Linked DNA regions of Homo sapiens: region 1 is reported to be linked to region 2. The links are microRNA targets in miRTarBase. Many come from high-throughput screens and were not tested one by one. Region 2 holds a microRNA gene; the other region holds the end of a gene's coding sequence.

The links. Region 2 holds the annotated microRNA hsa-miR-6131 (GGCUGGUCAGAUGGGAGUG, at 1,725-1,743, shown strand). A microRNA usually pairs through its seed, bases 2 to 8, with sites in the 3' UTR of a target mRNA and lowers its output. Matches are read on the target gene's strand: a 7mer-m8 pairs with bases 2 to 8, a 7mer-A1 pairs with bases 2 to 7 and ends in A, and an 8mer does both.
Region 1: miRTarBase lists SEC14L5 as a target of hsa-miR-6131. Seed matches in the 3' UTR shown: 7mer-A1 at 2,019-2,025, 7mer-A1 at 3,292-3,298 and 7mer-m8 at 4,046-4,052.

The regions. Positions count from the first base shown.
Region 1 is chr16:5,014,422-5,018,807 of GRCh38, forward strand. It overlaps SEC14L5 (SEC14 like lipid binding 5), which reads left to right. Exons shown (of 16, transcript NM_014692.2): 16 at 438-4,386. The coding sequence ends at 549. Among named protein-coding and RNA genes, the nearest start is that of NAGPA-AS1, 17 kb to the right of the region's middle.
Region 2 is chr5:10,476,383-10,480,768 of GRCh38, forward strand. MIR6131 (microRNA 6131) reads left to right here and starts at 1,655; the gene lies at 1,655-1,763. It also overlaps a transcript of ROPN1L not described here.

The sequences.
Region 1 (4,386 bases), not on the chromosome of region 2:
TGAGGTTTGGAGTAGGAGTTAACCAGACAGCTGGGGGAGGAGAGAATGGGCTTCTGCCTCAGGCTCAGCGCACACGAAGGCCACTGCAAGAGCTAGGAGGAGGACCATGGAATTTGAGTGCAAAGAGTAAGGAGGGAGTGAGACTGGAGACAGGGCCGGGGACTCCCTGGGCTGTGGCGGCCTTAGGGCCATGCAAGGGCCTCAGGCCAGGGGAGCCCCTGATGGGTCTGTGGCAGGCTGGGCTCCATCTGGGGAGATGGGAGTGTGGGGAATTCGGTAGTGCTTTTCTCTTCATGGCGTCACTTGCTTTTCCCTTTGCATCGGCCTGGGGCCCTGGGGCCTGATTTGCAGCATCAACAGCTTTTCCACTGCTGTGTGTCAGCCCAAGGGCCTTGTCACTGTGAGAGGGTAACGTGTGCCACGCCCTTCCTCCCCAGGGGCTCCATGTCCAGCCTGGAATCCTGCACCAGCGGCTTCTCCCAGCTCAGCGCCGCCACCTCGTCCTCCTCCTCCGGCCAGTCTCATAGCAGCTCCCTGGTCTCCAGATAGCCGGGCCCAGTGTTTCAGGGCCGCCCGCTCGCCTCCAGTGTCCAGAAATGTCCAGAATGAGAAGCCAGCTAACTGCAGGGCCTGGGACCATGTGGGCTGGAGCCCCAGGCCTAGATGCTGCCCAAGTTGGGGTGTCTGGAGCGGATGGCAAGGATCCAGAACTGGCCTGTGGGTGGTGTCAGGGCTCTTGAAATTGCAAGGACAGAACCATCTCCTTCCGGCTTCGTGTAAGGAAGACCAAGCCAAGGCCAAGGTGTCTACCATACCACACCTTTGGGACATCCGGGCTTAGCGACGTCAGCCAGGCCCATCTCCTCTCTGTCCACCTCTTGCTCTGCTTTCGCCATGCAGGGGACCATCACTATCAGGTGCCCTTCTCCTCCCTGCAGCTTGCCTGCATAAGAGAGCCTCTTCCTCCCAAAGGCTCCAGCCCACTTCCCAGAGCTGAGTCTTAGCCTGGAAGGGGGAGCGATTGCCAGGTCAATTCCTGAACCAATCACAGTTGCCAGGCACACTGGAGAATGCTGATTGGCCAGCAGGGTCATGCCCAATCTGGACCAATCACCGTGATCCAGGGTTGCAGTGAGGTGCAGTGATTGGCCAGCCTGGATCACATGCACATCTCTGGAACCAACCACCTGCTCTCAAAAGCACTAGTGGGTGCCTCGAGGAGTACTGGGGTCCCCCCTAAGAAGAAGGAGGAAGGATGCTGGGGAGGCAGAAATGAAGGGTGTTTACCTTGGCATCTGATTGCATAACGTTCTGTTATGCAGTATCAAGATGTGCTTGGTGAGCAGTTAAGTGAGTTACAGGCGCTGCTCTTTGTGGGGAACAGCACATCCTGAAGTGAAAATCCATGTTCCCTGCACTTGGCCAGCATGGCCTAAGCCTGACCATCCCTGATTGGAGAGGGTGGGAGAGCCCTGGGTTTCTGCTAAGTTCCAGGCAGTGATGGGGTGACTGAGGCTGTCTGTATACCCCACTGGAGATGCCTTTCTCTCCTAGGGAACTGTTTAATTATGACTGTTTTTGGTTGTAAGCCACAGAGACCCATGCCCAGGTGCTTCAACACAAAAGCATGATCATTCATGGGTGCATAGAACTGGCCAGTCCAGGAGGGCTTGCTTCAGGTAAGGCTAGATCCAGGGTCTCAACATGGAGTCTCGATTCCCCCCGCGAGTGGAGGCTGCTGTGTTTGCCCTGGGGCAGATATGACTCTGGAACTAGGTTCAATATTGACATGAGTTCCCCTAGTTACTACACAGGAGCGTCTTGGGTCTCCTTGGGGCCTGAGGACATTTCTCCTTTCCTTTCCTGGACTCCCCAAAAGGCAGCCAGTCAGGGGTCACCAACTTGAAGCCTGATCTGGCCTGCTTTTAGTGTTGCTTTTTTGCCTTTAGAATGGTTTAAAAATTGAGGCATTTCGCATCGAAATCAGGATTTCTGGCTTCCCTTAGGCATTTGGGAGCACCAGCAGAATGGGGTCACTATTGTTGCATGAAGACAACACCTCTGCACCCCTGGATGTGGCCACGCCAGTCCCTACCCCATTGACTTGCGCCCAGCCCACATTACACATCCTCATGACCTGCGTGGCAGGAGTCTCACTGACATGGCTCTGTCAGCAGTGGCTGGTACCCTTGTCTCCTGGCCTTGCTTAGAGTTGGGGCTCATCTCTGCTGCAGTAACTGAGCCAAGGGGTGGTTTTGTGGCCACAAGAATCATCTTTATGCAGGCTCAGCAATGCAGGGCCAGGAAACTTATATCTACGCCAGCCTCAACCCCAAACCCAAGGAAGAGAGAAAGTGTCATCTTTTCAGATACATCCTTCTTCCTGCTGGGAGAGAGCCTTGCCCACCTTCCTGTTGGCTCTCTGTCCGCTTCTCAGGTATCTGAACAAAATAGATTGCTTTGCACTCTGCGTCAAGGTGTGTGTGCACATGTGTGCATAAGAGACCGACTGATTGGAAGGAGACGTTCTCAAAACTAATTGCTCCCATATCACCAGGCATTTATTGCTGAGAGCAACTTGCAATATTTTCAACTATCTTTAAGTGAATTTCTAGCTTTTCTCTTAAAAACTAGGTGTTATCCTACAAGTATGCTGGGATAAGCTGCCCTGGCAGTCTTTATACATTTATTGTCTAGCCCCAGAGAAGGACACAGAAGCCTTTTACGGAAGGAAGCTGGAACTGCCTGTTCCAGAGGCGGGTGGGGGGAGGGGAGTCTGCTATCAGCTGTCCACCCTTAACAGTGGGGGTGAGGAACCTCAGGCCCTTTCAGTTCTGCTCTTGAGAGTGCTCTCTCCCTAGGGAAAACCAGCCCAAACTGGCTTAAGCAACAAAGCAAATTCCCTGGGTCCTGTACTAGGGATGGCTGAAGGTGGGTGCTGCTTCAGATATGGCTGGATCCAGGAGCTTAATGTCCTCAGGCCTCTCAACTGCACCCAGGCCTCTTGACTCTGCATCTCTTTGCATGCTGACCTCATTCTTTCTTCCACCTGGCGGGAAAGATGGCTGCCAGCAGCCCCAAGCCTATAATTTCAGGATTCACACTCTAAGAGATGCTTTTCCATCTCAAATCTCATGGAAGGCTCTGATTGGCCCAGCTCGAGTCACATGCTTATTCCTGTGGGCCACACTGGCAAGGAACTAGGGTCCCGTGATTGACATTCCCTGCAGAAGCCGCAGCAGGATTGGGGAGGGCCATTCCCCCAATGGACAAGAGAAGCTGGACCACAGAACCAGCAGGTATCCATGGTGGCATCTGCTACGGCCGGCTCTCCTCCCATGTGGAGGTCTCGGGGACCCACGTGGAAGCATTATCAAGGTCATTCTTCTTGCCTTCGGGAGGACTGGAATTAAAAATAATCCAAGGAAGGGATTGCCAAGCTTTTGGCTTTTGAATTTCCCCTGAGCCACAAAGGCTGGAAGTGCCTTGGCTTGGGCTTCTTGCATCATTAGTTCATTAATCCATTGTGACCAGGACAGAAGCAACCCACAAGCAGCATTACTGTTGGTGTTTGGGCACCTGGGCCTTGAATTTAGGCCAGGACTCAAACCCCAGCCTTCCTTTCACTAGCTGTGTAACCTTGACCAGGTGACTTAACCTCTCTGTGCCTCAGTTTCCTCATCTGTAAAGTGAGGATAGCAGTGCCTACCTCAATAGGTTGTAGTGGGACGAAATGAGGGAGTAGCTGTAAAGCTTTCAGCACAGCTCCCAGAACACAGAAAGCGCTCCATTAATGTCAGTGGTCATTCTGATTACTTAATGCTTCGCATCCAAAGACTCGTTTTCTTCCTGAGGTCGCCTATCCCTGTTTTTCGTTATTGCACCCAGAGAAAAGTAGGTGTCAAGAATTATTGCCCTCTGAGTTGGGTGTGCAGTCTTTCTCTTTTAGAAACTGCTTGTGTGGGCGGGGCGTGGTGGCTCATGCCTATAATCCCAACACTTTGGGAGGCTGAGGCCGGCTGATCGCTTGAGTGCAGGAGTTCAAGACCAGCCTGGGCAACATAGTGAGACCCTGTCTCTACAAAAAATTAAAAAATGAGCCAGGCGTGGTGGTGCGTGCCTATAGTCTCAGCTGCTCGGGAGGCTGAGGCAGAAGGATTGCTTGGAGGTCAAGGCTGGAGTGAGCCATGATCTCACCCCTGTACTTCATCCTGGGTGACAAAGCAAGACCCTGTCTCAAAAAAAGAAGAAAGAAGCTGCTTGTGTTTTCTGGGTAAGTCCACCCATCTGAGGGAGTGTATTCTGAGTGGTATTTCCCTTGGCAGTTAGAAAATGTTTTTTCCCAGAGGTTGAAGTATGGAGAGTTTGAGACTCTTTTTTTCTACC
Region 2 (4,386 bases):
CTGAAGAGCTTGCAAAAAAGTTCTTTTAGTGCTGAAAAGTAGGAACGTGGCAGATGTGACTAACAAAACAGTCCTTGTGCATCTGCTAGGGAGCACAGATTTTCTTTTTTTCTCCAATATAACAAATTACAATCCATCTGGGATTTGAGAAGTCTGAGCTAAGGTTTCTGGATCTGTTTGCATGTGGAACAACGATGAAAAGAAGAAAATGATAAGTCAGTTTTAAAGAACTTTTCTTGTGTTTCAAGTGGAAAGAAGGCTTGAGAATTTTTTTACATTTTACTCTGGTGTAGAAGGACGGTGATATTTAAAGAGTTAGAATGAGCATTAAAACAAAGACATGAAAATAATCGAACCCATCAATTGTATTTTTATATGCTGGCACTAAGACCTTAAAAATAATAATGTATCTAATTCTCACAAAAATATGTTAAAATGAGGACTATCATGTCCATTTTAAAGAGACGAAATGGAGGCAGATAATTTGTGTAAAGTCAAACAGCTAGTAAGTCTTGGATCTGGGAGTTGAAGTTAGATCATTTGGCTCGAGTCTATCAGAGACCTGCAACCCTTTTCTGTAGTGCATCATATAGTAAATCTTTTGGGCTTTGCAGACATGCAGTCTCTGCTGCAACTGCTCAGCTCTGCTGTGTAGCATGAGAGCAGCCATAGACAATATGAAAATGAGTGAGTGTGGCCGTGTTCCAATAAAACTTTATTAATGAACACTAAAATTAAGTTCATAGAATTCCACATCACAAAATATTTTTCTTTTTGAACTTTTTCAACTACTTACAAGTGTAAAAACCATTTTTACCTTGTGGGCCATTGTTTGCTGACCCCGGGTCTATGCAGTTAACCTTGACCTTTTTCAACATGTTAAAGAGGTTAACCCACATTTACCGAGGGCCACTGACCTGGGCACTGTGTGGGGCGCTCCATGTCCTGGTCCACGGACTTGCTAGTCCACAGACTTGCTACCTTCATCTATAGGTAGCTCCTGCTACCGTTATTCACACTGTATAGATGAAGAAAGCAAAGCGGTCCTACTACAGGTGGAACAAGGACACGCAGCCAGCCAGGAACTGAGCTGACATCTGTTGATGGACAGGAAGGAAGGATTTGGGTCAGCCATCAAGACTCTCTCAGGACCTGAGGAAAAGGGCGGGAAACTTAGGAGCAAGATGACAGGAGGGCAGATGCTCCGTGAGGATGGCAGGAAGAGGACATGTATGCTTAATATTCTGGAAAATCCTCTGGGATAAGGCCAGGCACAGTGGCTCATGTCTGTAATTCCAGCACTTTGGGAGGCCAAGGCAATCGGATCATTTGAGGTCAGGAGTTCAAGACCAGCCTGGGCAACATGGTGAAATCTCATCTCTACTAAAAATACAAAAATTAGCTGGGTATGGTGGCGTTCACCTATAATCCCAGCTACTTGGGAGGCTGAGACAGGAGAATCACTTGAGCCCGGGAGGCAGAGGTTGCAGTGAGCAAAGATCACACTACTGCACTCCAGCCTTGGTGACAGAGTGAGATTCTGTCTAAAAAAAGAAAAAAAACTATTCAAAATCCTCCAGGATAAAACTCTCTGTTGAAGGAAGCTTTAATCAGCAGCGAGCACATCAGGCACACTCGTTGCTGCCCCTTCTCATCCCGCATTCCCTCTGCTTTGGTCAGGTGGTGCCCTCCTTCCATGGGTAGAGCCAGAGATGGTGGGTTCTGGCTGGTCAGATGGGAGTGGACAGAGACCCGGGGTCCTCCCGGCTTCATGACTGCACGTGGTGGGCCCTGCACTGTGTGTCTACTGGGATGGATCAAGGTGCAACCAGAGAAACCTTGAGCCCTCTCCAGATACTTGAGTGGTAGCTGAGTTCCTGCAGCCTCTGTGAGCTCCCTTCTGAGCCTCTGGCTCCCAGTTTCCCAGTACCCTTTCTGTATTAGCTTCCTGGGGCTGCCCCGACAAAGTATCACAAACTCAGGGGCTTCCGCAACAGAGATTTATTCTCTCACAGTCCTGGAGGCTAGAAATTTTTGGACTTCTAGCTTCCCGGACTTGATTGGCAGGGCCACACTTCCTTCTAAGGCTCTGGCTGGGGGTGGGGGTCCTTCCTGCTTCTGCCAGCTTCTGGTGATGCTGACAATCCCTGGCATTCCTTGGCGTGTGGGTGCATTACTCCAATCTCTGCCTCCCTCTTCACATGGTCTTCTCTGTGCGTACGACTGTGCATCCTCTCCTCTCGTAAAGGGCAGCAGTCGTTGGATTTAGAGCTCACCCTACTGTGGTATGATCTCATCTTAATGACATCTGCAACAGCCCTGTTTCCAAATAGGGCCACATTCTGAGGTTCTGGGTGGACATGAATTTTGGGGTGGGAAACACTCTTCAAGCCAGTAAATCTTCCTCCCCAAATCTTGCTAGGTTTCCAATGCCTAAAAGAAGTGCTAATTGGAGAAAATAAGAATAGTTTTCTACTTATCTCAGGAGCGGGAAAAGATGGCAAAATGGCATGGCCAATTTTGGAAAGAATATATAGGGTGTTGTAAAGATATGTGATGATGATGAGGATGATGTTTTCACCAATATTTGCAGCCTCTTGTCCACACAGAAGGATTAGGAAGATTAATGCCTTCGAAATCAGCTATATTTTAGCACTCTGTTTTTAGTGTTTTCATGATTATCCTGGTGTCCTTGTTTTTGAGGTGGCTGCTATAATTATGGTAACGTGTGTGAGTAGGTTAGAAAGATGTTACAAGTGATTAAGCTATAAATTAGTCACTTTGGAGTGTGTAATAGTTCTTTCAAGTCCCCAGCATATAAGGGAAAGTGACACTGGTCTACAATGACTGTCTCCATGCTTCCATGCAGAAATTGAGACCTGGAGAATGTAAAGACTTGCCCAAGTTCTGTGAGTGAGTCAGTGCTAGAAAAATCTTGAGCCCAGCCCCCCAGATGTGATGACTATTCTCTTTCAAATATTTCTACAGGATTAGAATGGGCGCTCAGGCTTGGCTCAGACACCCCACATCTTTAGGTGAGTGGCTTTTAAATTGCCATTTGGTCACGCCTACTTGGCAGAGTTGCAAACACGGGCTGCAGAGTTCACACCCGCACCCTCCTCTCTGGAAGTGGAGTGAGAACAGGGTGGGCAGAGGTGGGGCTGCCACACCTGCTTCCCTGGAAACCCGAGGGAGAGCACAGGACGCCAGGCTGGGACTCGGCTGGCAGCTGCTTCGGGCGTCTCACCTTGTGACTATTTCCTGGGCACTGTGGGAGAGGAGGCCTCTTGCCTGAGCTCCTGTCCCTACTGTCTCCTCTCACTAAATGCACGGCACGGCTTTGCGGTAATAGGCTGGGACATGTCAACTCTTTTTTTTTTCTGAGACGGAGTTTCTCTTGTTGTCCAGGCTGGAGTGCAATGGCACGATCTCGGCTCACGCAACCTCTGCCTCCTGAATTCAAGCAATTTTCCTGCCTCAGCCTCCCAAGTAGCTGAGATTACAGGCATGCGCCACCACGCCTGGCTAATTTTGTCTTTTTAGCAGAGACGGGGTTTCTCCATGTTGGTCAGGATGGTCTTGAACCCCCAACCTCAGGTGATCCGCCTGCCTCGACCTCCCAAAGTGCTGGGATTACAGGCATGAGCCACTGTGCCCAGCCAACATGTCAACTCTTTAGGAGAGTTTGAAGACAAAAAATAACCCATGTCTGAGCATGGGAGGTGCTAAAAATAGGAACTTCTTAGCTTCCACAAGGGCAGATAAATGAATAAATAGGCCATAAACCAATGTAGTTATTTCAGCTGGGGGATTTTATTTTCTTTTGATTGTCCCCTGGAGCTACGAAATACACAAATATAGACTGATAGATTTTTTTCATTAATTCGAAAAGCATTTAATGGCTGTCATCTATGTGCCAGGCAATTGATGCGCAGCCAGACTTCCAGGAGGCTGGAGGGGGATCCAGATGAACCTCCCGGAGTAGGATTGTCAGGAGGGGACTGGAGACCAGGGCCATCCTGAAAACCCCATCTCTGTTCCAGGAAATTCCTAGGATCCCCTGGGAGGCACAGCCTGGAGAATCCTATTTTGGTTGCTGAACAGATGCACACATTGGAATTGAGACTGCGTGTGCTTGGGGTGGGTCGGTGAGGCGGGGGCAGTGGGGTCCAGGTGGGAGCCGTATGGAAGCCCTCCCCTCCCCATCCTCCAGGCATGCCAGCGAGTGTGGCCTTATGTTGAGTGTGTCCTCCAGTGTGAGTGGCTCCTCCGAGTGTGGTCCAAGGACCCGCAGCATCAGCATCCCCTGGGAGAGCCTTGGAAATGCAGAATCTTGGGATCCAGCTCAGACCCAGTCAGAATCAGATTTCCAGGCAGCTCGTGTGC